Regions from separate parts of the Homo sapiens genome. Here all the other regions are linked to region 3. Evidence: fine-mapped expression QTL. A gene starts in region 3. Each other region holds a variant in brackets. All regions are shown on one strand. Distances are between the middles of the regions.

What was found. PIP is the estimated chance that this variant, and not a neighbour inherited with it, causes the effect.
Region 1: its variant is fine-mapped to the expression of ROCK2 in cerebellum (GTEx, PIP above 0.99). The same link has a PIP of 0.9 or more in cerebellar hemisphere.
Region 2: its variant is fine-mapped to the expression of ROCK2 in whole blood (TOPMed, PIP above 0.99).

The regions. Positions count from the first base shown.
Region 1 is chr2:11,393,583-11,401,766 of GRCh38, forward strand. It overlaps LINC00570 (long intergenic non-protein coding RNA 570), which reads left to right and starts at 399. Exons shown (of 3, transcript NR_047499.1): 1 at 399-589; 2 at 6,790-6,875. The variant T/C (reference allele first, on the strand shown) is at 3,744.
Region 2 is chr2:11,217,006-11,225,189 of GRCh38, forward strand. ROCK2 (Rho associated coiled-coil containing protein kinase 2) reads right to left here. Exons shown (of 33, transcript NM_004850.5): 7 at 7,317-7,455; 8 at 5,078-5,169; 9 at 4,193-4,352; 10 at 1,961-2,021; 11 at 1,450-1,461; 12 at 85-164. Among named protein-coding and RNA genes, the nearest start is that of SLC66A3, 66 kb to the left of the region's middle. The variant T/C (reference allele first, on the strand shown) is at 4,792.
Region 3 is chr2:11,340,248-11,348,431 of GRCh38, forward strand. It overlaps ROCK2 (Rho associated coiled-coil containing protein kinase 2), which reads right to left and starts at 4,389. Exons shown (of 33, transcript NM_004850.5): 1 at 3,749-4,389. The coding sequence starts at 3,889. It overlaps LOC124907733 (a long non-coding RNA gene), which reads left to right and starts at 5,265. Exons shown (of 2, transcript XR_007086216.1): 1 at 5,265-5,442. RefSeq lists silencers at 3,704-4,433, 4,574-4,643, 4,714-4,873.

The DNA of each region.
Region 1 (8,184 bases), 53 kb after region 3:
GACGCAACGCTTTTGGGGTTGTTAACAGCCTTGATTAGCAAAGGAATGTTCATGGCCCATGGCTAAAGATAAGTGATAAATCAGGTGCCCTTAGTGGCCATCCTGAACTTGGATTAGACTCCGACTCTGCACAGAGACCTTTCATGCAGGGCTGGACTATTTCAGGAAATCAGAACCACAGATATGTAATCCTTCCCTACTCTCCTCCTTGTCTCTGTTGGTGACGTCAGGCTTCAGCTACACTAGCCGTTAACTGAGGTCCGAGGGTCCTGGCCTGGGATCCGGAGCCCCTAACTGCCTGTTCTGCCTTCCTGCAAAAGCTGGTTGTTTGGGCCAGTTGGTTTTTGGTTTCTGTGCGGCCACTCCCACCCCCACCCCAGCTCCCTGACCACGGGCTGCGGAAGAGTGGGACGTTATGGAACCTTCTCAGCTTATTCAGAGAGGCTTCTTCTTCCTATTTAGTCTCCCTCTGGCTTTCCCTGCTGGGATCTGGGTGGTAGAAGCAGCAGGGGGATCAACGAACAGGCTGAGCGCCAAGAAGCCTGAAGATTCCAGAATCTAGCGGGAAAAGCATTCAGAGTCAGAATGAGTAAGCAACTTCATCTCCTGGCCTTTACTTTTCTGTAAAACAGAGGCAATTCTATCTCCCTCATGGATGTGATAAAATAATACTTTGACTAGTAATAATAATATTCATTCAGGAGTGGATCTGGGTGTTGTGGGGCCTGAAGCTTATTCAGTGTGGAGGGTCCTTTTTAAGAAAGAAGAATACAAATTTACAAACACATCAAATATAAAAGGGGATATTTACTTAGGAGAAAAAAATCACAACAAATTACAATTAAAAAGAAAAACTGGGCCAGGCACAGTGGCTCATGCCTATAATCCCAACACTTCAGGAGGTGGAGACGGGCAGATCACTTGAGTCCAGGAATTCCAGACCAGCCTGGGCAACGTGGTGAAACTCCACCTCTATAAAAAATGCAAAAATTAGCCAGGCGTGGTAGCACACGCCTGTAGTCCCAGCTACTCAGGAGGCTGAGGTGCGAGGATCACCTGAGCTTGAGAGGTTGAGGCTGCAGTGAGCTGTGATCACGCCACTGTGCTCCAGCCTGAGTAACAGAGTGAGATCCTGTCTCAAGAAAAAAGAAAAAAGAAAAACTGAACAAATACTACAAATATCACAAAATCTAGAAAAATAATGTACTACATTTTATTAATTGTCTTCTATGCTTCTAATACCTTTTTCCTACATTTTTTGGCTGCATGCATTTTAGTAGCTTCTTCCTATGGCAATGGTTTTGTGGTAGTATTTTCTGTTTCTATAAAGAGATTATAAAGTTAATTCAGTCTTTTCCTTAGCACAGTTGGTCAAAATTTGTTTTTTATTATTGATGGCTTCAACTAGGTATCAATGACAAGCAAATTCTCTGCTTGCAATTGCCATTACATATTCATGATTGGAAGCATTTCCTTCAACCTTGCCCTGCCTTGCTTCATCCCCACAAACCCATCCTTTTACAGCCAGAATGCATTTGTTTCAGTGTGACTTTGAGCACTGCACTTTCTGTCATGATGCCTGGTGAGTGGGCACCACAGGCCTCAGGAGGATTTCTAGAAACCACTCTTCCACCAGGATGGCTAGCAACAAGCTGATGAAAGTGATTTTGAAATGCATCAGTATATCCCATTTACCCAAATAAATGAATCTCCAGGCCAGGCCTACTCCTAACAAATGCATAGCCCAGGACGAGACTAGAAAGGAGGTCCCCTTTTCATATGTTTAAAATAAATTCCTGAAAGTCATCAATCACGCTAACAAACCGTTAAATACACTGTGTCCCATCCTTCTACCCTGACAATTTGAAAGGCCAGATTCAAATTTAGAATTCTCAGAATCCTGGGTTCCATCGGGAATGTGTTGTGTGGGGAAAGCTGGCCCTGCCCCCTGGCTGGCTGCCGGTTCTCCTTCTCCAGGAGGAAGCACTTTGCAGCCTGAGGGCTGTGGCACGTGTGTGGATAGCCCAGGCTCATGGCTAAGATCGACCATTCCCGTGTACACAGCATTTTGGCAGCCCCTCAGGCCTGGGGTTGCACACCAGTGTGAGCCGGCCTTTGGGAGGACGTGGGCAGCGGTCCTGACGGGCCCTGGTAGCATGACTGATGTTGGCAAGGGTCTCTGGGCCTGGAGTATCAATCCAGGTCTTCTGATAAGCAGATCCAGGAATGGAATTGGGGATGCAAGAGGGTTCCTGAGGAGAGACATTTTTGAAAGATAAAAAGTGACAGAGGAGGGTTGGTTGGGGAAGGCTTCAGATCACAATGCTGATCTGAAATGTGTCGAGGGCAAAAATGGGCAGGGAGAGCCCCACACTGTCCTGGAGATCATTTACAATGTGGTCAACCCGATGGGCAGTTCTGGTGCAGACTGCCCATCAGAGGGGTCCTGCTTTGGGCATAGAAAGCTCCCAGCATGCTCACTGCTGGCCGGGCCGCCCAGGAGGGGCTGTAGTGAATTGTGAAGGGGCTTCAGCTGGATGCTGCCAGCTAACTACTCTCCTTGCCGCTGACCAGCAAGTTCCTTCTGGAAGGGAGATCTGAGCCACACTCCTCCCTGACTGCCACGGTGCACAATAGCCAGATTGGCTTTAGTAAGTGGGAGTTCATGCTGCTGGGCCCATATGTCATCTCTGCTTCTGCCAGTTCATAGCTCATGGCATATGCTAGCTGACATCCGTGGCTGAGCTATTTTGCCTACTTGGCTATTTCGTGCCCCTTTCGTGACTAACGCTTTCAGGTAGTTGATATATAATGCAAAGATCACCATTCTTTATGTCAATTTCCATATATCCATGAACTGCCTCTCCCCCAGACCTCCTGGTCTCTGATCATTCATTCTTCTAGGCTGGCCCCTGACCAGTCTGCCAAGTCAGGTGATAAGGTGAACTCTTGCCACTGCCATGAGTTCAGATTTTTTTCACCTTTGGCAAAGATTCCTTCCACACAAAGTGCATGACCAGGGACAATGCTGGAATCCCCCTGATCAGAAGGGTTTCCCCTGGCCACTGTCTTTAGCACTCTGTCCCTGAGTGTCGCTGTAAGGCAGCTGCTCTCCAGTTTCTGCTTGTTTCCGCACACAGCACCCAGCCAAACCATCTGCAAATTAAATTCAGGCCCTTTCTCCACTCTCAGCCGGGTATAGAAGGCACCCCCGCCCACTCCCACCGACGGGATGGCCATGGGGGTGTGCTGAGGGAGGGGTGATGGTGCAGCTGTGGCAGATGACATGGGGTCTGGGACACCTGCTCATACAACTTCCTTGTGCTCCCTCACCCCCAGCTCAGGCTTCATCCCAGGTGAACCTTTTCCATCACTCTGTGAGAGCCCAGATCATGCTGGGTATTTCTAGATGCATTCACTTAGATCCCCTGGGCAACTCTCCCATTCCCATCAGGGCTCAATAACACACCGAGAGCTGCTTTTCGAAAAGCATGTATTCTCTGCTGCAGATGGCATGGCCTTGCTCCGGGCCCCCAGGAGCCTGTGTTGTGATGCTCCCATGGCGGCTTGTCATTAGCTCTACACTGCATCCTCCTCCACCATTGACACCTCCAGCACCGCAGGGACTGCTGGATCAAATGGCCCAAGCGGCAGGGCTGCCTGCACCACAGCCTGAACCTGCTGCAGGCCCCACTCTGCTCTTGGCCACTCAGAGCTGGCAGCCTTCCATGTCACTTACCAGA[T/C]GGTCTGGAATAGCCTTCGTTAAGTGTGGAGTGTATTGCCTCTAGAACCCAAGAGGCGTATCAGGCATCGTGCCTCCTTCTTTGCAATAGGGGTTATAAAATGCAGCAATTTGTCTTTTACTTTGGAGAGGATGCCCTGGCATGCCCCTGATCACTTCATCCCTAAAAACTTTATTGATATGCCAGTCTCTGAATCTTCATAGAGTTTCTTCCCCACCCTCAAGAGCACATGTACTTTACCAAGTCCTCTACAGGCCAGCTACTTCTTTCTCATCCTGCCAAATTAGAAAGATGTCATCAATTTCATGGATCAATATGATGCTCTGTGGGATGCCCAAACAATCCAGATCTCTCTAGACTATGTTAAGACAGAAAGCAAGTGAGTGAGTCAAAGAGCCCTGGGGCAAAACTGTAAATATGTGTTGTCTGTTCCATGTGAATGCAGAATATTTCTGATTCTCTTTTCTGATCAGGATAAAAAAGAATGCACTCATTAAATCAATGGCCGTAGTAATCTGCTCTGGCAAAGATACTACATTGGTCGTGGTAACTGGGGCTATTACTATTTGGGTTTGTGGTGGTCCACAGTTCTCCGGGTTCCCTCTGGTTCCTGCAGGGGCCAGTTTGGTCAACTAAATAGAAATACGGGGGAGACCTCCAGCCATGCCTCCTTGAGTTCCATAAGGGTGGCATTAATCTCTAGCAGCCCCCAGGATGCGATATTGTTTGTATTTTCCTCTCTTGGCTGAGGTTCAGGGTGGGAGTAGTATCAAGAGTTTTCACTTGGCTTTCCCCAGTATGACAGCTTTTACTCTACAGGCCAAAAACCCAATGTGCGAGTTTTTCCAATGCCAATTATACGTTCAGGGACTGAGAAAATGACCTTAGGATGGATCCACGGAGCCAGTGGACCCACTCTCAGCTGGACTTCAGCCAGCACTCGCTTTCTTCCCTGGCTTTTTGCACGGCCCTACTCTAAGAGATGGGCTAGGAGGAGTCTTCGGATCTCTGGATGTCAATGTCAATTCAGATCTTCAGATAGTCCTTCAAATAGCTGAGCAACCCTCTTTCCCCAGCAAAAAGTCACTCTAGTAAATGGTCATAGGTCCTGTTGTTTATCTGAAATCTCTACTTTAAAAACTGTCATGTCACAGGATTCTTTCTCCTGGGTACCCAGCCACCTCTTCAGTCAATAGTTCTCCGTTCTGGAAACCGACTCCAGTCAGGGGCTGTGTCTCATGCCTGTAATCCCAGCTACTCGGCAGGCTGAGTTGGGAGACTCGTTTGAGCCCAGGAGATCGAAACCAACCTGGGCAATGTAGTGAGAGCCCGTCTCAAAAAAAACAAATAAATAAAATGACATTGAGTAAACTAAAAAGTCATATTTTTCAAAAAGCTAACTCCAGTCCAGTTTATATATACACACGTAAATACACACACACACACACACACACACACAGCAGTCCACGTATGGGCCGCCCCTCACTAGCATTGCTGTATTCTGTCAACATCTCCTTCACTCTGGAAGTCAAGCCCTGTTGGCTGCCACTCCAGCCTTGCCAGTTGTTACAATGGGTGTGACCTTCTGGCTCCCGGCGATTAAGCACTTACCATGTGCCTCTCCTGCTTCAGGGCACCACGCCAGCCTATAAGCAGCCGCAGGGGTTGAGCCCTGCAGAGCCCCAGAGGCAGAGCTGCCCAAGGCTTTGGGAGCCCACCTCTTGCATCACTGTGCCCTGGATGTGAGACGTGGAATCAAGGAGATTATTTTGGAGCTTTAAGACGTAATGGCACCCTGCTGGGTTTCAGACTTGAGTGGAGCCTGCAGCCTTTCTTTCGGCCGGTTTCTCCCTTTTGGAACGGGAGTATTTACCCAATGCCTGTACCCCCATGGTACGTTGGAAGTAACTAATTGTTTTTGATTTTACAGGTTCATAGGTGGAAGGGACTAACTAGCCTTGTCTCAGATGAGACTTTGGACTGTGGACTTTTGAGCTAATGCTGGAATGAGTTAAGACTTTGGGGAAGGAACAGTTGAGAAGGCATGATTGGATTTTGCAATGTGAGAAGGACATGAGATTTGGGAGCGGCCGGGGTGGAATGATACCGTTTGGATCTGTATGGATCTGTGTCTCCATCCACATCTCATGTCAAACTGTAATCCTCAATGTTGGCGGAGGAGCCTGGTGGGAGGCGATTGGATCATGGGGGCAGGTTCTCATGAATGCGTTAGCACCGTCTCCCCAGTGCGGCTCTCATGATAGAGTTCTCACAAGATCTGGTTGTCTAAAAGTGTGTAGCACCTCCTCCCCCTCTCTCTCTCTTCCTCCTGCTCTGGCATGTAAGACGTGCCCGTGTCCCCTTCCTCCACCACAAGATTGTAAGTTTTCTGGAGCCTCCCCAGAAGCTGAGAAGAAGCTGCTATGCTTCCTGTTCAGCCTGCAGAACCGTGAGCCAATTAAACCTCTTTTCTTTATAAATTACCCAGTCTCAGGTAGTTCTTTATAGAAGTATGAGAATGAACTAATAAACCTGGTCTTAAGCCCCACCCTGATCAACACCCTCCCTGCCTGGACCCCCCTTAGCGCCCACTGGTCTATGGCAGTCCACTCTTGCAGCACCTTTGGGGGCTCTTGCTTTCCTCCCTTATCAAGCCTAGCCTGTCCCCAGCTGGGTTATGCTGCCATTTAATCCTACTTATTGGCTTTGCAGCCAGGAAAGGAGATGGGGGCAGATCCTGAGGGGGGCCCTGCTATCGTGTAGGGGAGAGACCTCTACAGGGTGGGGAAAGGGCTGACTCTTGAGAGAAGTGGCAATCCCTGCCAGCACTGAGGGCTCAGAGGGGTCTTGGGAACCAAAGTCATCAGGGGCATCCGCCACCTGGGTCTTCCCATCAGAGCAATTTCCCAAGTCAGCATCACTGAAAGCATAGCAATTGGGTTGCTGTGTCATCCTAGGCACCCCTCTGTGCCTCCCAGACCACCTGGGATGGAGCCCTCATGCTAGCTGATCAAGGTGCCACGCCCTCTCTTTATTGTTTTCTCAGGCCACTTCCAGCATCGATGGTGTCAGGTCAGGTCCTCTGGGTAGAAGAAATGGAGTCAGTTAGGAGTGCTGGAGACTGAGTAAGAGGTAAGCCTTGTTAACGTGATAGGAGGATGAAGCAGGATTGGGCAGAAAAAGACTTCATATCCCAATGCCAATCTGAACCTGTGAAAGGAACTAGAGAAGGAGCAGAGTAAGCAGGTAGAGGCTCAGAGTGAGATGCCATCTGATGAAACCTGGTCCAACCCAATAGGGAGCTATAGTGAAAGACTGCCCATGAGAAGGCTCTCCCACTGGCAGAGCTGGCCAGCCACTAGGATTCCTGCTGTGGTCCCTCTTTAGCTGAAGGCTGCCTGGTGGAAGTGTGGCCTTGACTCAGACAGTGTGGCAGATCCTGATGCTGTTCTAGCTGGAGGTCTCAGCTAACTGCAGCCCTTGCTGCTGACAGCATGCTCTTCTTTTTTTTTTTCCTGTGGTTTTTTTTTTTTTTTTTTTTTTTTTTTTTGAGACAGAGTCTCTCTCTGTTGCCAGGCTGGAGTGCAGTGGCGCAATCTCGACTCACTGCAACCTCTGCCTCCCGGCTTCAAGTGATTCTCCTGCCTCAGCCTCCCAAGTAGCTGGGACTGCAGGTGTGCACCACCAGGCCCAGGTAATTTTTGTATTTTTAGTAGAGATGGGGTTTCACCATGTTGGCCAGGCTGGTCTCGATCTCTTGACCTTATGATCTGCCCACCTCAGCCTCCCAGAGTGCTGGGATTACAGGCGTGAGACACTGCACCCAGTCCCTCATGCTCTTCTTCAAGGAAGCTCTGAGAGGCAGATTCCCATGGCTGCCGCACCTGAGGAGTAGCCTGGAAGAGGGTGAAGCTCCCTTTGGCCCTGTAGACTCCTTGCCCTTAGGGTAGAAATGCAGCTAGAGAAGGACAAGAGAGGAGCTTCTGAAAGTAGAGGGTGTGCACTGCCCTAGTCCAGGCTGAGGATGTTACTGTGTAGACCCAGTTCGACTTCCCTTCGGCTAAAGCCCCAAAGAGCCGCATCACCACCCAATACAAGCAGATGTGTGGTGGAAACGAAGTCTGAGTGGGAGATGTGGGCTTCAGGAATTGTTAAAATATTATATCTTGATTTTTGCATATTTTTTAAAAACATGCTGCGCCGGGCACGGTGGCTCACGCCTGTAATCCCAGTACTTTGGGAGGCCCAGGCGGGCGGATCACGAGGTCAGGAGATCGAGACCATCCTAGCTAACACGGTGAAACCCTGTCTCTACTAAAAATACAAAAAATTAGCCGGGCGTGGTGGTGGGTGCCTGTAGTCCCAGCTACTCAGGAGGCTGAGGCAGGAGAATGGCATGAACCCGGGAGGCAGAGCTTGCAGTGAGCCGAGATTGTGCCAC
Region 2 (8,184 bases), 120 kb before region 3:
GCCACCACACCTGGCCGCTCTTTTTTCAGTAAATGTTTAAACTTAAATTTTATAATGTAATATTTAATTATCTACAAAACATACTTGCACTTCTGTTCCAGTTCCTCTTTGGCTTGCATCTCATTGCTAAGATGTTCTTCTAATGTATACAGTTTTTTCTGAATCTGTCAAAAAACAAGAAACTGTAATTACGTATTTTGGTCATATTTAAAGATGAGAGGCTTAAAGAAAACAATGATAAGCTTATTTTGTCTTTCCACTAAACATAATGTCCTCTATAATGGTACAGTATTTGTACCTCCTTAATGTGACTTATATTGATAAAAGGAAAAACTCCCCCATCTCTTGCTTTCTATCAGAGTACACATGTATATATGAAACATACTTATGTAACCATGCATAAGAAGCTCTAACTTTGGCAGAATTGTTCTATGACACAAAGTTTCAAATTCATTATAAAGAATACCACCTCAGATATCTTCTGCTGCTTTTCTATGAATTATTTGCTTGAAAATATTGTCATTATTTGTGCTAGTCGGATAAAAATGAATACATCTAAAACAAATATTCAGAGTACTCAACTGAATATGCTCAAAGTAAAGAATATAAGCTCTTCTTTTATATCTTCCTATGTAGTGCTGGTCATATTACCGAGGAGTAATCAATAACTTTCGAATAAATGATAGCTAATTAATTACAAGCCAGCTCCTCAGCAGCTTTCCCTAGCTATGTAAGTCTTTAAACAAGCAAAAATTACCGAAACTATTAAATAATCCATTTTTGGAACATTATTTACTTTTTAAAGGATTTAACTTTTTGAGCTCCTGTGGTGCCTTTGGTAAAATATCAGGCACTTTACAAATGTTGTCTTGTTAATATTAACAAAAATCCTACAAAGATGGTAGCATTGTATCTACTTGATACAGAAAATGAAATTCAAAAAAGGTAAATAATCAGGCCAAGATGGCATAGCTAATAAGTCGCAGTGGCAAAAATCAATGCAGGTCTATTAGACTCCCATGGCAATGTACTTTCCATTATTCCTTCTAGTGATCAGGTTCTCCATGGTTTTAAATACTGCATCTATCTTAAGCAAAACTCTGTTTTCCCTTAATAAAAATATACAGGCTAATGAACTAGTCAAGTTTAATTGCTTTTGGCTACTACTGCATTACAATAATTTGAGCACACCAGTTATTATATGCTAATCAGAAATTTTTGCTGCCAGTTATATGTCCTTGATAAATAAAAACAAAATTACATAATATATATTTTAAACAGATCCACAGAACAATAATAAAAGAGATACTTGGTAGAAGAAAGGTTGGGAACTTCTCTCTTGGGTAGATGTAGTACTCCAAATGCTAGGTAGGATATGACTATATTTAAACTTTGCGAGAGTGATGAGCTTTTCTCAGTTTTTCAATATATCTGACAACATCAACATACCTCTTGACTTTCCTATTTAAAACAAAACAGAAAACACATTAAAATACTAAAATGATGGTTATATTCTGTAAAATTCCTAAAACACAAACCATAACAAAATTATCCAACCTAATGCTTTAGCTTTCATAAGTTTGAAGAAAAAATGTTTAGCATCATCATTTATGTGTATGTGTATATCCATGTATGATTTAGCTTTGCATTCATTTACAAATTATAGAAGTCAATTTTCTAAATGTTATTATAGTTGTTTACAAACTTATTCTATCACTTTTGGCACTCAATTAAGCCTAAAGCCATGTAGAAGTCCTCTTTGTACTAGCCATCATGTCTTGAATAATGATACTATTCACATAAATCAATCATTGCAATGCTATGTTAAACTGTATTACACAAGGAATGCCATCTCATGATTTTAAAAGGAGCATCAAATTAGCTTTTTAAAAACATGGGGATTACTAAAATATTTAAACATGAAACTAAAATAACTACAGCAGTAAAAATGTATACGTACTTCATTTTTCCTTGATTGTATGGAATCAGTTTCTCTACAAGATGGAGAGTCACTTAATAATCTACATGGAAGGGGGGAGAAAATAAATTTTTTCATTTCATTTTAATCTATGTGCTGTTTTATTCAAGTTATTCTCAGACTTAAATATCAAACACAGATTTCTCTCTTTTCCCTTCAACACATTATTTACAAATGAAGCAATATTTTTCCCTCAAGACATTTGTATCATTTTCAATAATTTAAAATGCTAGGGCCAGGCGTGGTGGTTCACACCTATAATCCCAGCACTTTGGGAGGTCAAGGCGGGAAAGATCACCTGAGGTCAGGAGTTCGAGACCAGTGTGATCAACATGGTGAAACCTTATCTCTACAAAAAAAAAAAAAAAAAAAAAAAAATTAGCCGGGCATGGTGGTGGACACCTGTAGTACCAGCTACTCGGGAGGCTGAGGCATGAGAATTGCTGGAACCCGGGAGGTGGAGGTTGCAGTGAGCTGAGATCGCACCACTGCACTCTAGCCTGGGCGACGAAGTGAGACTCCATCTCAATCCATCCATCAATCAATCAATCAAATGCTAAACTTTTCTTGCCTTTCCCTCTTACGGGATAACTAGTCTTTAATTTTGTTTGCACCAGACTCACTAAATGAAACTATACTTCCCACCTCTTCATCTTATTATCTCATTTTTCTTTCTTTTTTTAATCTGTCACCCAGGCTGGAGTATAGCGGTACAATCATAGCTCCCTGCAGCCTCGAACTCCTGGGCTTCTCAAATATCTTTAATGCCTCATTCAACTATTGAACAGCTTTCAGTGGCTTCCCAATGCCAGGCGGTCAAAAGCCCCTTAGCAGAGCACACAACAATCATCTGTTGATTATTCTTCCCCAAAACTCACTTTTTTTTTTTTTTTTTTTAAGACATGGTCTCATTCTGTCGCCCAGGCTGGAACAGCTCATTCCAACCTTGAACTCCTGGCCTCAAGTGATCCTTTCATCTCAGCCTCTGAGTACCTGGGATTACAGGCGCAAACCACCACATCTGGCTTTTTTGTTGTTGTTGTTGTTGTTGAGATGGAGTTTCGCTCTTGTTGCCCAGGCTGGCGTGCAATGGCACGATCTCGTTTCAACCACAATCTCCACCTCCTGGGTTCAAGCGATTCTCCTGCCTCAACCTCCAGAGTAGCTGGGATTACAGGCATGTGCCACCATGCCCAGCTAATTTTGTATTTTTTAGTAGAGACGGGGTTTCTCTATGTCGGTCAGGCTGGTCTTGAACTCCCGACCTCAGGTGATCTGCCCACCTCAGCCTCCAAAGTGCTGGGATTACAGGCATGAGCCACCGTACCCGGCTTTTTTTTTCTTTTGTAAAGACAGGGTTCCACTTTGTTGCCTAGGCTGGTCTAGAACTCCTGGGCTCAAGCTATCCTCCCATCTCAGCCTCCCAAAGTGCTAGGATTACATGTGTGAATCACCACACCTGGCCTCAACATATTTTCTAATCTTACATCCAATACTCACTTCAGTTAACCAATATTTATTGAATGATCTTGTGTCAGACTTTCTGCTAGATGCAGAGACTACAGGCAAGAAAACCACATAGTCTCATCGAGTCCTCCAAACTGTAATGACATAGTAGCACCTGCTCTATGTTTGAGTGCTACTGGACTCAATGCGAGTGCTCTGCTCCCAATGTATGCTCACATTCCAAACATTTGCTTCCACTATTCAACACCTCACAACTGTCCCCTAACCTCCCCACATTTCAGCCACTCAAAACCTTTTCTTGTTAGACTTGGCTAAAATGCCACCTCTTCCCAGAGGTCTGACCTATTTCTCCCTACTCCCACCCCAAAGAGATGACTTCTATTTTTCTTCTGAACCATCCCAGATTCTCTCAGCATCTTTCTTAAGGCAACTGTCACATTTTACCCTTCTTTATGACTATATAATTCTCTTATATCCTTCACGAGATGACAAGCTTCTTCAAAAATAGGTATTTGTTTTTACTGTATATCCCCAAAAGAATGTAGAATGGTGTCTTGCAATAACTTATAAATGAATAACATATAACATTCAGAAATAATAAAATAAAATTAAGAATTCTTCTGATGATAGTCCTTTTGGAAAAAACAAATTAATACTTTATCTCCTATAATTGAGTCTCAAAATAACACATCATCTTATAGCTAGATTCTAAAAACAGTAAAATTTAACAAATAATAAACCACATACAAATTTTCTCTATAGTAGGTAAATCCGATGAAAGGCAGCTGATTTCCAACAAAAGCTTTAGGAATTGGGAAGGTTTCTACATCTCCTTTGTCATCTTCAATGTCATCGAAATTGCTGCTGTCTATGTCACTGCTGAGTTCAGGTACTACAGGAGCTGCCGCTATTAAAAGAAAAGAAATAAATTATTTCATTCACAACCAAAATATATAAACCATCCTATTTTATTATGATGTATTATTTATTATTTAATAACACTATATAAATTTGTAGCAGCGCATTTGCCATTTTATCGATTCACAGAATTAAAATTTTGTAATTTATTGCTATATTAGATCACTTTTAAATATAGATTAAACAAGGAAAGCAACATATTATTCTAGTTGTTAAAAATTACAAGCAGCAATAATTTGCACAGAATTTAGAGACCTCCATTTTCTACAATCTCGAAACAGAAATATTTCTTACCCTTAAAATGAATCAATGTCATATATACATAGTAAAAATAAGTTACTATGCTTACAGCAATATTTAGCAGAGTATGGTCTCCATAAATAATTGTTGATTTATCAAGTCAAACGCATTTAAATTAAAGGATTGCA[T/C]TCCCTTGATTCTGAAAATTATTGAGATCTACAAAGCTTAACTTGGCAAATTAAGAAATGTGTAATGTTTATTGTAAAAGTGTTGAGAAATATTGCTAATAGTTTGCAAAGATATTGAGGAATATTGTTATAAATATTGCCACAGAACAAATTTGAAATGAAATTTCTCAATTTAAAAATGAGTTAGCATTAAGTGTTATCAAATATGCTTGTTATTTCAAAAAAGGAATCAACTTATGAGTTTCAGAATGTGATGGAATGAAAATATTTAGGTTTATTGACTTACTTTCTCTTATGTTATCCCAATGCCACTGATCATTCTTAAAGAAAGGATGCTGTCTGATTTCTTCCACCCCATTTCTCCCAAGTCGTACCTCCCTAAACAATGCAGTTAAAGATTGTATTATTTAAAAATTATAAAATAAAAAGATTAACTCTATGTCAACAGTTTAACCAAAATAAAGATCTCAAGTAAATTTGAGATATTTGTATTAAAAGCTTCAGCTTAAATGTTTCTCAAAAATAAGCAATCCCAAGTTACAGTATGTGATCTCTTTAGACAGATTTAAAAAACTGTAATGCACAATAAATGTCATGAAAAGTAAAATGTTTCTGTCTATAGTTTGCATCAAATGAAAGTACGTTAAGACTATCAAGTAAAAAAATTCACCTGCATGTGCCACGACTGAATGACAATAACTTCAGGATATAAACAGACATAGGTCTAACTTTCGGCAGAGAAGAGTTATTCAAAACTTCCCTAATAGAAATATTATTTTAAAAATCTCTCCCTTTCCTAAAAAGAATGCATATATTATGTTTGAAGCTATCCATATTTATTCTGGTAAAGTATATCTCTACATGTATATTAAACTTATCATTCTGCATATATGAAAAATGTTACAAAGAATTTCATTCTTTGACCCTCTGAGTCTTCAATGAAGACTGTATGGAAATAGAGAGCATCTGTGTTATACAAGGCCCTGGAGCTATGTTTAACATAAATAGGAAAACTGTAGACCTTAAGGGGAAGTGCTCCTAGCCATATTTACGGCATTAACTCGTTTTCAAAATATCAGTTTTCCACCTATAATCATTCCTTAGATTGCACACCCCTGCCCCATGACTACTAATTCAAAACTTTCATGAATAACACTCCTTTCATTAACATAAAACAGGTGTACCCTGTTGTACAATTTATCATCCAGCACAAATTATGGCCATCCCTACCAATCCTGCTCAGTGCCCACATCAAACATCATACAGGCTGTGTTCTTCTTCCACCCTATCCTCTTAGAAAGAGGCGTCTCTCCTTCTTTTCAAAGATAACATCTCCTCATCTCCAGGTCTTAATATATAAATCGTCATTTCCATTTTACTTTGAGTTTATCAGCACCAACTGCTCGTCAACCATGTAATTGACAGGTATTAAAGTTTTATTCTACAAATGACTGACAAATAAAAATAATTATCCTCTTTGATGAAAAAAAGAAAAAACATTTTACAATGTTCAGTTTGACGAGAAGAAAACAATTTTGTTAATGGAAATACATACTGCTGTAACTTCTCTGGGGATCAATTTTGTAACATCACTTAAGTTTAAAATGTGTATCCCAGAATTCCACCTTTAAGATTTTATCCTATAAAAAGTATGCAGAGATGAATGTGTGAGGATAGTCACTGCAGTAATGCTTGTAACAAATTAATAAGCAATAAGATGTGCTAAGGAATCTTAGCATATTAAAGCTAGAAATGCCCTTAGTTTTGTAATTTGAGACCACTGTTTTATGGATGAGTAAAATTATTTCCCAAAAAAGTAAAAATAATTTCCCCAAGATCATAAAGCTGATGTGTAAGTTTGAACGAGGGTGTGAGCATCCTCTTGTATATGTTGGTCCTTTGACAGGATGACTCCTATCACAAATATAAAACGGGACATTAGAAAAAAATGGAATGGGGTGAACAAAGAAGAGAAATCAAATAGTTTTCTAGCTTATCTTTTGGGGGCAGGTTTTCACACCTTTGTTCATCTATTTTGTTTTTAAAAGTATGGAATTTCCAGGATAGTCTTGCTCATATTCAAATGCAAATTAAAAAGGGTTGGGAAGGAAGCACTCCCAAGTCTAACACAAATAGTTTTTAAGATTATAACCTGTTGAGTATTTATCTACACAAAATACTCTCAAAAGTTATATAAGAGTAATATGGAATAACCAGCTTGGAGGATAAAATGTGAACAACACGAAAGTTTTATTTCTTTCAAATCCATTGTTTTACCACGTTCTATTTTTTCCTTTTTAGACATGAGGGTTAAGGTTAGAGTTCGATTACAACTGGGCTGTACACACATAACAACAAGGTAGCCCAACACCAGGCTTAGCAGAAGGAAAAGGCTAACCCAGAATTAGATGCTACTTGGGTAATGAGAGGCAGACTGATTTCATATGTTAATAAGCTAGGCATGCTTTTATTTCTATAAATTTAACATAAAGGGCTTCTCTACAAAGAAATTCAATGTACATTACCTATCTGTTAAGAAAGCACAGATGAGATTCTTTGCATGTTTGGAAATTTCTGCATCTTCAGGGAAACACAGTGAATTCTTATGATCCATAATTTTGCTATATGTTCCTACAAGTGAATCCGCATAAAATGGAGTATCCCCTAAAATTTCAAGAAAGAAGATACTGAATGTAACAGAGAATGCAAAGGAAACACTTTTCACCTAGTACTTAAATATGTTAAGTTTAAATTTGTCACATGCAGGGAAGAACAAATATTCTACGGGCACAGAGTCCCAGTCAAAACAACAGACATATTGTTATATTCTAAATCAAAGAATATATTTAAAATTTAACACCACCAATGATCCCTCATCCCTTAAAAGCAAAATAAAATCAATGATAACTCCCGAATTTGTTGAGTTTTTTTTTTTTTTAATTTAAGAGAGGAAATGTTTTACTGAATAGTCCAAGAGAAAGAGTTCCTATGTGGGGTCAGATCAGTCAGGGTCCTTTAATGCTTGGGCTGGATCAGCATTTTGAAATCATTCTCTAGAGATATGTTATACAACACAGTTGCCACTAGCTATAGGTGGCAATTTAAAGTTAAAATGAATTAAATAAAATGAAAAACACAATTCCCTAGTTATACTAGCCACATTTTAAGTCATGTTGTAACCAATGGTCACCACACTGGACAGCACAGATTTAAATCATTTACATCATGATAGGCCAGACAGGGCTGCTGCAAGAGTTAAACCAGCTCTATTATTTTACATAAGAGGAAGTCAGGCCCAGAGAGACAGACTGTGACTAGCTTAAAATGACATATAGCTAGAGTTGAAAGAGGGAAGAAATGGTCTCCCCATGCAGTGTTCTTACTAATGACTGT
Region 3 (8,184 bases):
TATTCCTCCAGCAAAAGGCATTATTATTTACATCAAGAGGAATGACTAGACCACAAGTATTCTAATGTGAGATTAGGTCAGATGTTATCATCAAATACATTTTACCAAAAACTGGGTTTTTTATATATCAAAATTGTGGATAAGGGATTGCGGACCTGCACTTGCTTCACATCAACAGTAAGTTCCACACATCACCTTTTTTTTAAAACCTCCCTAGCTAACTCATTTTCTTTAAATATCTCCTATCAACATGAAAGTTTTAAAGTAAACTAGTCACAAATTTTACACTATAAATGCCAAACTCTTCATAAAGAAAAAAATGTATAAAATGATTTTTAATTTTTATTCTATTTCATTTTTATTGTATCTTTATAATGTTCTTACTTATTACATGATGGGAAAAATACACATACAATTTTATTTTAACTAGGCAAATAACCAGCAGCATGCTGAAAGAGTCTAAGCACTGAGATAATATTGTCAGATAGTTTACAAGTATAATGAAATCAATCAAATTATTTTATGTTTTATGCCACTGAAAATTGTAAACAAAGTTTTAATCACCTTTGCCCATCCACACAAGTCTTAAGTAAGAGTTTACCCAAGCGTGAGTCCTACAGGTTATTGTGACTGTTTACTCTTTGAAAGAGTAAAATAAATCAACACTCAAAAAGCACAGACCTTTAGAAAAATATCTCTTCAGCAAAGCCTGAAACACAGTTCTTTTTACCATAATAGGTAAGCAGTATGAGAAGCTGGTCTTGACAACAAAGCATAGGTATTTACCCAAAGGTTTCAAACACTACAAAAGCATATTACTGAAGACTCGCCTCCAAAAAAAAAAAGAGGCAGTAGAGAAGCAAAACTCTAAGTAATACTAAGCGGCTCACAATCTGCAACCATAAAAGAGATATACTCTTCTCAGATTAATTTAAGGACCCACATAAAGCCATGAGCCTTTGCAGAGAAACAAGATGTCATCTTTACACTGATTTAGTCTTGGAATCCAGCTCTACCTATGCCTAATGATTGCTAGCACTTTTCTGATGACAAATTCAAATGATAATGCTACTCACTCAAAATTATGTAGCAAGAAATAGTTGCAAATAAAACCATTTTCCTTTGAAAAGAAAATTTAAAGCAGTTAACTAATAACATGCTAAGTGTGCACAGGAGAAGTGAACTAAATTTAATGAGCACTGTGATGTACCAAGCACTAGGCTAAGCACTTTACACGTTATCTCATAAAACTTTGTTTCCTACAGAGTTTTACCTTCTAGGCCTAGCCCACTGAAAGCATCATACAATCATTTCTGGTGTACTTCATCTTCTTTTGTCATCTTAGGTATATACTATTTTTAATGGTACTTTCTGAGCTCCTGAATGTAGTGTCGCAGCTGTGTTTGCTTTAAATTATATTCCTTTAAATTTTCTGTTAAAGACAAAATATGTATTTCCCATGGCAAAACCAAAAAATAAATGTCATAGGCAGTAAAACAATGACCAATAGTGAAATGCAACCTAAATGCTAAGGTTTCAGATCTTTAAAGTGATACCAGCCATTATTTCGTCAGTATTTCAGGAAATATAATTTTTATAACATTCTTTTAAACATTAATTTACAGTTTCAGTTTGGAAAAATGAAAAGATTCCAGAGACGGATAGTGGTGATGGCTGCACAACAATGTGAATGTATTTAATGCCTGCCACTAACCTGTACACTTAAAAATGGTTAAAAATGGTAAATTCTGTATACGCTACCACAATAAAAAATCCATTCTAGTAGTTCATAAATAAAATACGCGTAATTTAAAATTAATTTATTATAAAAAAATTTTTAAATTTCGTTTATCAATTTGTAACAGAAACACCAGGAACCTTGCTCCAAAGGAATAAGGGACGCATTTTGGCTTGGAAAGGTTTACTGCACCTCAAGCATATTTAACCAACTAGAAACAGCAATAACAGAGTCTGTCAAGTCATCAGCACCTGATGTCAATTCTCAGATCCGTAATGTGCCACCTTAATAAAAGTGTGTTTTGGCTGTAATAACTGCTAAATGAATGAACTGTGTCCTGAACATGTGAGATGTTTCACTTTTAAAAATAGCCTCCATTTTAATAATTTGGAAAGCAATAAAACAAAATGCATGATCATATTACATGTATAAGCTACTTACATTCAAGCTCAGAATAACTCTAATAATTATGATTAATATCATTAAAGATCTAAGATATCAAAGTGAATTGCAAAACGTTTCCATCTAGGATTTAGCATGAACCTGATGAATACTTGAGATTTGCTGTACTATTTTTAACTAAACTTTCTGGCCTTAGGTCAAAGTTTTGCTAGCAAAATACCAAAGTGAAAATGCTGGGAGTGCAGCCCAGAGTCTCCGCTTTAGCCTAGGAAAAGCTATGCCATCCATGCAAGCAATCTTACTCCCGATTAAAGACTTTCAAAGACTGCTCCCATTAAAACATAGGAACAACACATTAACCCGAAAAACAGTAAAACATCAAACACATGTGACACAATATAGCACATCATTCATTACTTTCTGTACACTGTGCAGAAAGACACTATATAGCTAAAGTCAGTTCCTGCATTTTGACCAAACAGGACTGAGTCACTCTGCAAACGATGCCTGAAACCTCAAAGGATAACCAACCGCCTCTGACCAAAAGCCAGTCCGTCCGTCCCTGGAAAGGGAGGAGGCAGTTTTTCTCATCATACAGTAAGGTTTATTCCAGGAGGGAATAGAACTAAACATCTGCATTCCAGCACAGAATGTCTAACGGATCTAAGGACCTCCCACCCTAGTTCTAGTCTTCCAGAGTCAATTTAATACACAGAGTATCGTTTTCACCTTTCTTCCCCTCCCCAGGGTAAAAGTCCACACCCCCTTTTCCCATAAATGCATCTACACTGCACACTACTCAAATTGCGAAATACAATCATCTATCCTAACAAAAATAAGAAATAAGCCAGCATTCTACGGTGCATTTCTATTTTGTAAAACATGCTCCTTTCTTAACCAAGAGCCAATTAGCAGCCTTTACGGTGCTATTAATCTGGATTTCAAAGGTCGTTATAGGAAAGAGACGCAATGAAGAGGACAGATTTATTCCACTCCACAATTCAGACTGATTTTTTGGCTCTGGCGCAATAATCTCAGGGAATTAAATTTACAGCAATTAAAATGCACTAAATAGCAAGTATGGAATGCTCAAACGCAAGTGAAAACAGCAAAACTTTAGCTGTGTGTTCCAAGATTTCAGACTAAAAGGAGAGAGTGAGGGCGGCTCTTTGTCATGTACCCCAGTGAGTACTCGCAACAGGGACAGCATCAGGTTTCTTTCTCCCTCGCTCGCACCAAGTCCCCACGTAGCATGACACTTTCAAATCAGCTAACCTGGTGTATGAAGCATGGCCAGTCCTCCACCCACCTCCCCAGAGTGGGCAGGCGGAAGGAGAAGAGGGGTGTTTTCCTCCCAGTGCTGCAAGAAAGGAGCAGCCGGGGATGACACTGGCTCCAGCAGGAGGTAGAGGGAGGAATCAAAGGCGGGTCACTACTCTTGGAACTCGGTGACAGAATCGTTTGGTCTCCGGCCCCGGCTGCCGGAAGCAGGGCGGGGTGGGGCAAGACCTCCCCCTCCCCACGGGCGGACGGGCACGGAGGGCTGGGCGGAGAGGGGATCTGAGGTGTGAGCTGCAACGAGCAAGCTCCCAGGCCCCGGCCACCTACCAGCAAGCTCTCCACGTTGATGGGGGAGCGAGGGTCTCGGATCAGCGCCTCCAGCTTCCTCTGGCGGCTCGCGCCTGCCCCGTCCCCCGGCGCGGTCTCGGGGGCGCCGGGCATTTTCCCCGTCGGCGGGGGCCGGCTCATGCCGCCACCGCTGGACCCGCACTCAGGCTCCTCGCGCTCAGGTCCCGCAGCCTCGGGGCCTAGCACCGCCCCCGAACCACCAGCTCCGGCCGGGACTCCACCCGGGCCCACCGCCTGCCTCTAGCTCCGGCTTCGGGTCTCCAAGGCGGTCCCCCGCCTGGGGGCTGCTCCCAGGGGCCCGCCCGGCCCAGCCCGGCCCAGCCCGGCCCGGCCCTGCCGGGAGCGGCGGGGAACAGACGGCGTCCCCGCCCCTCAGTCAGATTCGCGCCGCCGGTCCGCTGGTCCTCAGCGAGTGCCCGCAGGAGTCCTCGGGCGGGAGCAGGGAAGTGGCGCCGCCACCGCCGCGGCCCGGACCGCCCCGCCCTCTGGGGCCCCGGGAGGCTGAAGCCCAGGCCTGGGCCACTACGGCCGCCGCCGGCCCGCTGCCATGGTCGCCGCCGGCCGCCTTGCAGTCCCTCAGCCAGCTCCCGGCGCACACACTCCCGCGCGGCCGCCCGTCTCCGGCCGCGCGCCGCCGCTACCCACAAGCCCCTCCGCCCGCAGCCGCCGGCGCGCGTCCCCGCCGGCCCTGCGCGCGCTCCGCCCCGCCCCGCCCCGCGCACCGCGCTTCCTCCCTTTCTTTCCCTTCCTGCGTCTGTCCCGCTCCGCTTTCTCCTCTGCGCCCCTTCCTCGCCCGCCCTCGCCTCCTCCCCCTGGCGAGGTTCTCTGAGGCGAATAGCCGGGCGCGCGGTCACGGCCGAGCTCCTGCTGGGGGAGGGGAGACGCACCCAGGCCGGGTCCTTCCGCGCGCCCCCTGCCCCTCCCGCCGGACCCCGCGGACTACCCCGCGGCCCCGAGGCGGAACCCCAGACGCCGGGCCCAGCGCACCGTGCGCTGGGGGGGAGCCCGGCCGCGCCCCCCGCCGCGGCCCCCGCTGACTCAGCGCGCAGCTATGCGGGCCTCGCCTCACCCGCGCCCAAATAATAGCGACCGAGCTCGGCGCCCGCGAGGGGCCGCAGGGCCGGGGGTTTCGAGGCGAGCCTGAGAGGGGGCCCTGGGTGTCTGGGATTCCGAATTAGCGGAGGCGGGTGGAATCCTAGTCCTGGGGCAGGAGGGCCTGGGATCCTGAAAGCGTTTCTGCCCGGCTTAGACACTAACCACTTCAAGAGAACGGGAGAGCACCGGAAAAAGGCTTTCCAGCCGCAGGCCTTCGCGGGGTCTTCTCCTTTTGGGGGGCGGAAGAGGGGTGGTTATCGGGACCGTTCCGCCGCATTCCTGCCCTCTCGGCGGCCGGTGCCATCGCTTAGATCCGCCCAGGGCGCAATCCGAAAATTATGTGCCAAGAGCTATAAAACCGTTCATAGAGCCCCTTTGACCCAGTAAACCCATTTAAGGAAGTACATTTCCAAGGAAATGATCCAAAGGGCGAAGAAGGGGGAGAACTTGCAGAAAGATGTTAACAGCAGGGCTATTCACAATGTTCGTGATGACCAAAACCTGGGAATGGGCCCAGTTGTCCAACAATTGAGTAACCCAAACAGGCGCCTTCACATTAACAGCAAGAATCCTGGCAGGTATGCAGACTGTGTCAAACATGAAATTTTGGCAAGTACATGAGAAGGTATATTAGAAATAAATGAAACAAAAAAAATCGTTTGTACACACTAAAACTATGTAAAATGAGCAGCTATAAGAACCAGAGAATACAGTACTTCTTAAATAAATGGGATTTTTTTCTGTAAAGATACTTAAGAACAAATTAAATTTCAAAAAATGGAAAAACCACTCCGAAAAGCAACAATCTGATATCCATTAAGTAATAAGAATGTTAAGAACTGTCTCCCTGGCATGTCAGAGATAAACCCGAAGATAGGGTGAAGCCCCAGCCCTGTAAAAGTTGCATTTTGATCCAAACCATTGGATTAGTTGGAGCCTCTTCTTTGGTTTTAGGTTAGTTAAAACCACCCCTAGCTGGACTCATGCAGGAAGAGGCCCCGATGATCCATCCAATGCAGCTTTTCCCTTTCAGATAGTAACACTGACTTCACATCCAGAGAGTCCTTTAAGTCTGTGTATTGAGCTACTCATTCAGACCTCCACAGAGGCCACCAGGAGAACAGAGGGAGCTAGACACTCCCACTTATGCATTGGAGCAAAATAATGAGATAATCTATGATTATGGATTATTTTTCTGATGACAAAATAATATGCAAGGCAAAAGGAGCACTCTGTCTAGCGGGGCGTGGTGGCCTGTGCCTGTAGTCCCAGCTCCCCCTGAGGCTGAGTTGGAGGCCTCCTCCATTGAGCCCAGGAGGCCAAGGCTGCAGTGAGCTGTGATCACACCGCTGCACTCCAGCCTGGGCAACAGAGTGAGATTGTCTCAAAAAAAAAAAAAAAAAAACACTGTGGTTCTCAGTTTCCAAATTAATTTTGACTGGTTGTATATTTGTATGTAGCTTGGTGGAATAACAGGAAGCCATGGTCCAAATACCGAACATGAAAACCTTATTTTAAGAGTAGTGATCAACAAGATATATATCCTGGGCATGTTCTACATATACTTATTTATATAGACCAGAAAAAGCCATGGTACAGAAGATTTTTACCCAAGACCTATCCCATTGTCTACCTGGAAGAAGAGAAAATGAATCTGTTGATATGAGTTAAACCTTTTTGCAGGATGGGGTAAGGGTAAGGAGGAGGTTAGTACAACAATTCTTGTTTTCAAAAGTAATGCACAAATGCATTCTTGTAAAAGTTCAAACGAACCAGAAATATATGGAACATAATCTAAAATTTACTGTTCTGACTATATTTCCACATACATTCTTATATCACTCAAGGCCTTTGGCCATTCTCATACATATGTATTATAGATACATGTTACCTTTTCCCCACAGACATGAAATTATACCATATCATGGTGTTTGGCAACTTGGTTTTTTCCCTTCATTACTAATATGTCCTAGAGGCGTGTCCATGTCTATAGGCAGAGATCTGCTTCATTCCGCTTACCTGCTGTCCTCTACTCCCCAGTTTGGATGTGCCACACTGTAATTATTCTCTATTCGAGAGCATAGTGGTTAAGAAACAATTGCCAAAATCCTGCCCCAAACACACACTTGCCATGTGACCCTGAGCAAGTTACCTAACTCCTCTGTGTCTCGGGGTCCTCACAATATTTGTTATAAAGTGCTTAGAAATGTGCTGGCCCTCAATCAATGCTAGATATTATTAATATTTTCTCACTGTTAAAATGATCCATTGACATCCTCGTATCCTCATATTTGAATAGTATAGATTCCTAAAAGTGGAATTGTCATAACAAAGGGTAGGCATACTGTAAATACAGATGCTGCCAACCTGTTATTTATTTATTTATTGGAGGCAGGTTTACATTCTGTCCTTCAGGCTGGAGTGCAGTGGCACGAGAGATCTTGGCTCACTGCAACCTCCACCTCTAGGGCTCCAGCAGTCCTCCCACTTCAGCCTCCTGAGTAGCTGGAACTGCAAGCACACAACACCATGCCTGGCTAATTTTTGTATTTTTTGTAGAGACAGGATTTTGCCTTGTTGCCCAGGCTGTTCTCTAAGTCCTGAGCTCAAGCGATCCACTCACCTCAGCCTCCCAAAGTGCTGGGATTACAGGGGTGAGTCACAGAGCCGGGCCTCAACCTGGCCTTTAAAAAGACGCTACCCGTTTACATTCTCAGCGTGAGTAGAAGAAACTGCCCATGTCCCTTCACCTTTCCCAGTATTCAATATTATATTTTTAATTGTTGTCAATAAAATGGGCAAAAAACGCCATCTTGTTCTGACTTGTATTCCCTTAATTACTACTGAAGATAGGCATTTTGTCTATCTATTTCTTCTGCAATTACCTGTTTATATCTTTTATCCATTAGTTTTGTCTCTTTTTATTATTTATAAGAGCTCCTTATGTATTTTGGATATTCCTTTTTGTTATATTATAATAGAATATATTAAAATATGTTACAGTTTGTGAAGATTTTTTTCCAGTCTGTTGCTTGTCATTCAGTTTTGTTTTTTACCTGTTATGCGGTCAAATCGGTTGATATTGTCCTCTACAGCTTCTGGGTTCTGTATCTGTGTTAAGGAGGATTTCCAACCCAGTTTTTAGGTCACACAGAATACTGGAATTGCAACAGGTTATGAGGAAATGGCAGTTTCCTAATATTCTCAGCTCAGCTCATCCCAAATTAGCTGTGGAAGGGGGTTCCCTGGGCTTGCTGGTCTCCAAGGGAACTCCTGCTGTGACTCCTGTTGCCACGCGACTCGGGCCAGGGTTGACTGCT